Linked DNA regions of Homo sapiens. The protein of the gene in region 1 interacts with the protein of each later gene in a biochemical or structural test. Each region holds a gene or a part of one and is shown on either strand. Other genes may lie near its edges.

Region 1 (4,252 bases):
AAAGAAGCAGGCAGGAGAATGGGAAGAGAGCAGAGGGCTTTTCTGCTTCTCGTTTCTCTTCTCAGGCCCACCCCTCATTCCTCCCTTCTGAACAATCAGAGACTCAGCTTGGCAGTCAAACACTCTTATTTTTCTTTCATGATTTCCAATTTTCCTCTTCACCTTCATATACCCAAAGCTCCAGAGTGAACTGCTTACCATCCCCTTCTGACCCAGAATGCCTTTTCCTCTCTACTGAAGTCTGGCCAAATTCAGGCTTCCTCTTGCCTCTTTCCTTAACCCCTTCTCCTCCCTATACTTACCCTGAAGCAAGCAGTGCTACCTTCTGTCTCCAAACTCCACAGCAATAGGCCTGAACCTGTCTCATGGCTTTGCTTCATTTTGTTGGGTAGCTTGTTTCATCCTTCAAGGACGGAAATCACATCTTATTCAGCCCTGCTTCCCCTAGCATCTATCACAGGGGTAGCACCAAGCAAACGCGTGGTAAATATTTTCCAGTGGTGTACTATTTAGTTTACCAGACAAATTCTAGTACATGACAGAGTCCTCAGGAATTTTAGGCTAAAAGACACATTGATTTTCAGAGGATCTCTAAGGTCCCTTACGTGAGTAGGATTTCACAGTTCTCTAATACATACCATTAAAGTAGCATTAAAGATTCTTCCACCATATGTCTTGAGTTCTCCGAGGATCTGTAGATAATTTAAACGTAGCTGGGCAGCAGAAATAAGTTGCTTAATAGAGAAAAAAAAACACTTGAAGTCAGAGTTATTCATTGGTCTAAAATCCAGGCAGTGTTGAAAATGTTTTTCCTAAGGTTTCACAGACGACAGCTGAGTGGGTCGGCAGAGGCACCTTCATTACCTTCTGTCGGGGTTCCAGCAAATTCTGGTTCCTCTTCATGTGGAAGCTAATGGCTTTCTTGATGTCTTTGCCTTTCATGTTTCGGAGTAAAGTTGGAGATATAAAGTTCTCTATTCCCCAGTCTTTCCTGCCATGAGACATTGGAGACAAGGAGGCCCATTTCTACAGGGTACTTGGCTCTAATGAAGAGCATAATTACATTTGATTCAGTACTTAGTGTTCCCATAATACAGCAATTACGAGCCACTTTCTCCTCCTCTCTTTTTCTTTCTCACACACACATACACACACTCTCCACAAAAATCCCCACAGGCATTCAGGAACTAAACCCCATTGATCATTCTGGGAGCTCATTACTCTTGGTGTGGTGTGACCATCTATCAGTCAGAGCAGGAGTTCTGAATCTTTTTCACTACAAAATACATGGCAAATAATGACAGCATACAAGAGAGTACAAGACACTCTCATGGGGCAACGCAGAGCTCCTGTGAATCCCCTAGGCTAAGCTTCAGCATGGTGCCAGCCTAGCAGCTTCAAAATCCCCCAGAAAATTGCTAAAACTACAGATTCTCAGGCCCTGCTGCGAGAGATTGGACTTAGTACATCAGGGGTAGGGCCAAGGATATGCTGTATTTTTAAAAATATGATTCCCCATCTGATTCTGATGCTCAGGCAGGACAGAGCTGAGATCTGGGGAGGGGCTTAGCAAACCTGAGTGATGCTGTCCAGAACAATTCTAAGCTAAGAATCAGAAGGTGCTGGAATCGTAGGACTTGAAACTGCTCTAGTGGAGACATAATGCAATAGGAACTGGTTCATATCCACGGGAAAAATTAACTTCCAAGGCATTCCCACCCCTAGAAAAGCTTAACACTGATGCTGGCAACTGATTTCCCAAGACATCTTCCCAGGAACAGGCAATTTACAAGGGAATCCTGTGACATTCCATCTGGAGTTGGCTTCTGTCCCAGAGAGAGCAGCCAGGTTCAGACATCTGGGGGAGCCAGGTCAGATTAGAGAGGGTGCAGAGGGAAATGGATGGAAAGACAACAGACAGATGGGTAGGTGGGTGACTATCAGCTTTCTGTGGCATCTGGCCCTCCTGGCCAGGGGCCAGCAAGTTATAAATGCAATGCAGCTGCCATCCCCTGCCACTCACTCTATATACTTTAAAGAGATCTTCTGTGGCTGGGCACAGGCGTAGATCCGTTCCTGGATGTGCAGAGCCGCGAGTCGGAGTGCAGAGCTACATTTCATTTCTACAGCAAAGCGCTCCTGGAGCACATCGCTGCAGCTCTAGAAGAGATTAAATAGAGCAGATGGGAAACAAAAGCAGACATACTGTGTCCCCTCGTTCTCTCGGGTGAAAGGCAGCAGGACCAGGAGCTCCGCTTTGAGAGCTGGCTCTGACAGTTCTTGGCTGTGTGACCTTGGTTAAGTTACCAAGACTCTCCAAGCATTTGGTGTCTGGTAAATGAGGATAGTAAAATCTACCTTATGTGGTTTCTGTGAGACTTAAATTAGATAATGCATATGAAAGCAGGTATAAGGCACACAGTGTTATACAAATATAAAGTATTGATGGCGTTGTTATTGCTATTATTATTATTTTCTGCCACCATTTCTGTAAGACTTGGGGCAGTCCAATCCACCTAGTCTGAGTTATCTCATCTGTAAAATGGTGATATCTGCCAAATGATTCTTTTTCTTTTTTTTTTTCTTTTCTGGAGACAGAATCCCGCTCTGTCACCCAGGCTGGAGTGCAGTGGCATGATCTTGGCTCAATGCAAACACCACCTCCAAGGTTCAAGTGATTCTCCTGCCACAGCCTCTCAAGCAGCTGGAACTGTAGGTGTGTGCCACCACGGCTGGCTAATTTTTTGTATTTTTGGTAGAGACGGGGTTTCACCATGTTGGCCAAGCTGTTCTCAAACTCCTGACCTCAAGTGGTCCACCTGCCTCGGCCTCCTAAAATGCTGACATTACAGGCGTGAGCTACCGCACCCGGCTCCAAATGATTATTTTTCATCAGAATAAAAATGGCATCATAACTCTCATCTAAGGAGGTAGAATAGGGGGAGCACCAGGCCACGGATCAAGAACCAGGTTTTGGCTCTGCCACTAAGTGAGTGACCCAGGCAAATCACACGACCTTTCCAAGACTCAGTGTCATCATTCTAAAACGAGGTTTTAAAGCACTAAGGCCCCTTTTGGCAATAAAAACTGTAATTCTAAAGATCCTAAAATGGTATTAGAAAATGTATCATCTACATTGAGGACTGAGCCTGAATTTCATTCTGATATCGCACACCTGCTAAAACAGCAACTCAGTGATGGAAAAGGGAATTCTGAGCGATGATCAGGCCCATTCTCCTTCAGATAAAGAGAATCCCTACCAGGGAGTTGTTTAATGGCCTCGAGCTCACGTTCAAAATCACCCAGTGCACCATCTTTGAGAACAACCACTGTTATTTTAGGAAGCACAGACCCAGTCACCTGCAGATAGAGGTATTCAAAGGCCACGGGGTCTTCTTTCAGGAGGTCCAGGGGGTCCTTGGGAACAAAACAGACCCTGAAGAGGCAGCGGTAGTCATGTGACTCCTCCCTTTCTACCACCTGCGATGGGTAAGGGAGATACTATTAATCTCCTAACTGCCTTTGTCCTTGCAGTCATTCCACAAAACCACTCTATAAAACACAGACAGTGAAAGACAGTTCCCAGAGATTTCAATTCTAGTGCTTCCCAAGACAGCCATAGACCTTTACTCCTAATTTGACTTTCTTTTTCCTGGGTACAAAATGTAAAAGGTTCAAAAGGGCAGCATTTCCCACTCACCTATCTTCCAGTTTCCCTTTCCAGAGGAAACTCCTGTTTTCAGTTTCTTGTGTGCCCCTTCCAGAGACAGTTTATGTATATTCATGCTTCAGTATAAGTCTATTCTTTTATCTTCCACAAATAATAATATAGTATACATACCATTCTACAACTTACTTTATTTCACTTAAACTATCTTAGGGATTTAATGTGATTTTCTTTCCCAATGCAAATGGAATAGAAGTAATTAAAAAGTCTGCAAGCAGTAAACCTTCTAATCGGTGAGTGCATTGGGTAAGAATTCATCTGCAAAGAGGAATGTTCAGGGTGGCTTTTATGAGGTTATGTATTACTCATTTCCAACTGTTAAAATCCTCCTCATCTTTGTAACAGACTCACAAAGATTTGTTGAACTAACCTGTGTTTAGCTTTAAAAAGTTGGTACAACATATTATTGAATGGTTGGGAGATTGAGTGATATAGACCGTTTGGCTGTGTTTACCCTATTCTGCCATCAGGAACCATATCGGGGGTAAGTCCCACAAGAAGGGCTTAGACACAGCAACAAATGCT
Region 2 (4,429 bases), on another chromosome or scaffold:
ATTTCTCTACCTGAAGAGGTGTTGAGTGCTAAGCTATGGCAGCCTCTGAAGACCTGGACAGGGCACAGAATGGAGTAGGGTAGGGTAGGGGGAGGAGAGACGGGAAATGGAAGGATGAGACAGAGAAAGCCAAAGTTGGCAGCTGCCCTGAAATCCTAGGTGGGGGCTTCTAAGCTGGTTAAGTATCAGGAGCATTGACTTGCCAGTGGGGTGGCCAGTACAGTGTTCTCCCTGCTGGAGAGGGTCTCTGGGCCCAGGATTGCGGCAATAGATTTACCAGGGGCAGACTAATCAGTTAAAGGAGGCCTCCTACCCCTCAAGTGTACTGTCTGCAGGATAAAGTGATCAGCTAGGACAACGGATGGATGATGGCAGGGCTCTGCTCTAGTCGGCAATGCATCCTGAGCCTGTAGGCTCAATTACCTCGACTGAGGAAGAGAAAGGGGAAGAGAATGGTCAGTGCTATGTAGCTAGAGGAGCACTGGGTGACAGTCGGAGGACCTGGGATCCCTCTCCGGTCTGGCTCCACAGTTCACTAACAGCAAGAGTTCTCCAACCTTCAGATTCCTCACCGGTACAAGCAACATAATCCCTGCCTCATCTACAAAGTAACACTTCTTCCAAAAGGCACAGACTAGATATCAAAGTCAAATGGCCATTATGCAGCATGTTGGGGTCAAGACCAATGCAATCCGGACTCTGGCCTATGGGAGGACTAAATCAGGCCTGATCTGGCCATGCTTCCAGGACCTCTCCAAGGATTTTCCTCCCTGTGCCTTTCTCCTGCTTGATGGCCATGACCTTTCCCTGTACTGAGACCTGCTCTGCCCTCCATACTGGAAGGGGGAGGTAGCCAGATTCCTGCTAACTCCTGCCCTGGGTGTGGGGACCTCAGGGACCTTAGGGACTTAGGGACAGTAAGCACCTGGCACCCTGCCTGCTGCCACCTTAGCAAGGTGTAGTCACTACTGGATGCAGTGTCAAGAAACAGGTTCTAGTCCCAGTTCTGCCATTTACCAGCTGGCAAACCTTGGGCACTTTTTCCTCGGTCTTCAGTACGCTCATCCACAGAATGGGGATAATCACCCCTCTCAGGGGAAGTAAGGATTCACCATGGGTTAGGGTTCATTCCTGCCGACAGGGGCTGGGCCTCACTGACACTCATCATTATAGCCAAAGATGGGAAGTAGAAAATGAAAAGATAGAACCACGAGCTGCTCCAGTCTTTAAGAGGGAGAAGAACATTCACTGAGCACCTACCCTGTATTATTAGTTCATTTAAACCTCAGAATGATCCTGCAAAGTCAGTGTTATCATAACCATTCTGCAGGTGAGAAACTGAGGCTCAGAGAAGTGAAGCAACATGTCCAAGATCACACAGCCAGCCAGATTCTGGCGCTTGTGTGAGGAGGGAGCACACAGTACCTTCTCTTGCCCACCTCGATATAAACAGATTGGGTGGCTGGGCCACAGCCAGGCCTCACTGCCCCTTGGGAGGTCCTGTTTCAGGCCCAGATGCTGGTAGGACAAAACATCAAGTAGGTGCTACCATCTTATCTCTTTCCCACAGCTTAGAGTTTCCCAGCAGGCGGACACTCAGGCACCTTCCCAGGGTAGCAGCTGGTGTGCCGGCTCCCTCCTTTACCAAGTCAGGTCTTGTCTGAGGACCTAACACTCACAGGGCCACCAAACCGGATATTCCTTCGAGGCTAAGAAGGGAAAAATGAGAGAAAATGGGAGGGCCTGCAGTCTAGAGTCACAGCCCAGGGCCCCATATGTACAAATGCCTCCTTCCAGATGGGCCACCCAGGGACCACCCCAATGCCAGCTCCATGCTCTCCTGGGATCTGTAACAGCTCAAGAAAAGTAGATGCTCTGAGTTTACTAACTAGAGAATAAGGCAAGGAGTCAGAATCTGGCCTGCCAGGAGGGCCCTGACCCCACTCCAATAAAAACTGGCACACAATAAACTATAGGGATGCCAATTAAGCCAGTTCTATGATTTCCAAAGTTGGCTAGTAATGAAAGGCCCAGGGAATGAGAACTAAAGAAGGCAATACTGCTATTCCAGATGTTTCTCCCTGGGCCCAGCTCAGATCCCTTGCTCCCATAACAGGAAGCCAACACCCATGGGATCCCAAAGAGCATAGCTCCTCACCTCATTTGGCCTGCAGACTGGGCGGACTGAGGCTGGATGGGAAGCTCTCAGCCTCAGGAGGCCAGACCTGACAATCACATAGGAAAAGGAGAAGAAGGTCAGGGACCACCTCTCTCAGGTCACCTCCCTCGGGCCAGGAGACCTGGTATAAAACTTGTATCCTTCTTTCCCTTCCCAACCACTTCCTCTATGCTACAGAAGGGACACCAAACAAGTCTGTTCTTCCTGCTCCAAAGTGACAGGAGGGGTATCATCACTCCTCCCACCCTTCCCTGCTGAAAACATCTTTTTCCTCAACTGGTCCTGGGCCTTTTTTTTTTTTTTTTTCTTTGAGACACGGTCTGTCTCACCCAGACTGGAGTACAGTGGCATGACCTCAACTCATTACAACCTCCGCCTCCCAAGCTCAAGCGATTCTCCTGTCTCAGCCTCCTGAGCAGCTGGGATTATGGGCGTGAGCCACTACCGCCTGGCTAATTTTTGTATTTTTAGTAGAGACGGGGTTTCACCATGTTGGCCAGGCTGGTCTCAAACTCCTGACCTCAAATGATCTGCCCACCTCGGCCTCCTAAAGTGCTGGGATTACGGCGGTGAACCACTGCACCCGGCCCTTCCTGGGCTTCAATGCCCCACTCGGTCTCCAGCCAAGCCAGAAGAACTAATGCTGTCGGCACTCTGATCTATGCCTATGCCACCCACAGGATCATTTACTGGCAAGCTGCTTTCTTGTCTGTGGCTACTACTCAAAAACAGACAGGGACCATCTCAGTCTCACTAAAGGTTCCCTGCGGAGTAGGCTCAAAAGACAGACAAGGTGAAGAAATGGAAAGGCCTAGGACTGGGAATCAGGAATTCCAGGTTTCTCACAGGCCTCCAGTTTATCCATCTGTATGCTGATGGCCATCTCTAAGGTCACTTTCAGCTTTTTTTTTTTTTTTTTTTTTTTTTTTTTTAGGCAAGGTCTCCCAGGCTGGAGTGTAGTGGCGTGATTTCAGCTCACGGTAACCTCCACCTCCCTGGGCTCAAGCAGTCTTCCTACCTCAGCCTCCCAAGTGGCTAGGACTATAGGTGCATGACACCACACCCAACTAATTTTTGTATTTTTTGTAGAGATGGGGTTTCACCATGTTGGCCAGGCTGGTCTTGAACTCCTGGGCTCAAGCGATCGCCTGCCTCAGCCTCCCAAAGTGCTGGAATTACAGGCGTGAGGCACAGCACCTAGTCTTTTTTTTTTTTTTTTGAGACAGGGTCATGTTCTGTCTCAAGAAAGAGCTGGGTGGAGCACAGTGGCACCATCTTGGCTTACTGCAACCTCCACCTCCTGGGCTCAAGAGATCCTCCCACCTCTCAGCCTCCCAAGTAGCTGGGATTACAGGTGCCCACCACAATGCCCAGCTAATTTTTTGTATTTTCTTGTAGAGATGGAGTTTCACCATGTTGCCCAGGCTGGTCTCGAATTCCTGAACTCAAGGAATCCACCTGCCTCAGCCTCCCAAAGTGCTGGGATTATAGGCGTGAGCCACCATGCCCTGCCACTTTCAGCTTCCTGACTTGAAATGTCTCCCCGCAAATAAGTATTAATTACTCCACCGCAGGCCTGAGGAGAAAAAGGTGAATGAGCCTCTTCCCAGTCCTGAAGCTAATCAGTCTAATGAACTGGTAATGACAACATATTCTTATCCTTCTGGGCCACTTCTATTAGCCTCATATACTGCTGAGAGAGTCGAAAGTGCTGAGCTAAGTCAGGGAAGGTAAGAGCAGGCAGGTGACTGCTAAGACACTTCTGTTCTACCTGTCTGACACCTGATATCCTGCAGGGACGAAAGGCCATATTTATGGATGGTGAAGGCAGTGGAAACTGTACTGACCTGGGAGTCAGAAACCCTAAGTCCAAGTCCTAGTTCTGCCACTAATATGCTGTGATCTTAAGAAAGTTACTCTTCTCTCTGGGCCTCAGTTTCCTCATCTATGTAAGTAAGGGCTGAGCTGGTCAATCTATTAAGATCCCTTACAGGCCAGGCATGGTGGCTCATGCCTGTAAACCCAGCACTTCGGGAGGCTGAGGCAGGTGGATCGCCTGAGGTCAGGAGTTCAAGACCAGCCTGGCCAACATGGTGAAACTCCATCTCTACTAAAAATATGAAAAATTAGCCAGGTGTGGTGATGGGTGCAATCTCTGCCTCCCAGCTACTCAGGAGGCTGAGACAGGAGAATCACTTGAACCCGGGAGGCAGATGTTGCAGTGAGTTGAGACTGCGCCACTGCACTCCA

Evidence for each region.
Region 2: the proteins of FRMPD1 (region 1) and TBC1D10A interact in a test that uses a peptide from one of them, tested with the Homo sapiens proteins (one large-scale study listed by IntAct).

The regions. Positions count from the first base shown.
Region 1 is NC_000009.12:37,730,212-37,734,463, reverse strand, and holds part of FRMPD1 (FERM and PDZ domain-containing protein 1), read right to left. Parts: intron 3,481-4,252; coding exon 3,361-3,480; intron 2,161-3,360; coding exon 2,024-2,160; intron 992-2,023; coding exon 865-991; intron 735-864; coding exon 639-734; intron 1-638. UniProt on the Homo sapiens protein: Stabilizes membrane-bound GPSM1, and thereby promotes its interaction with GNAI1.
Region 2 is NC_000022.11:30,319,513-30,323,941, forward strand, and holds part of TBC1D10A (TBC1 domain family member 10A), read right to left. Parts: intron 1-4,429.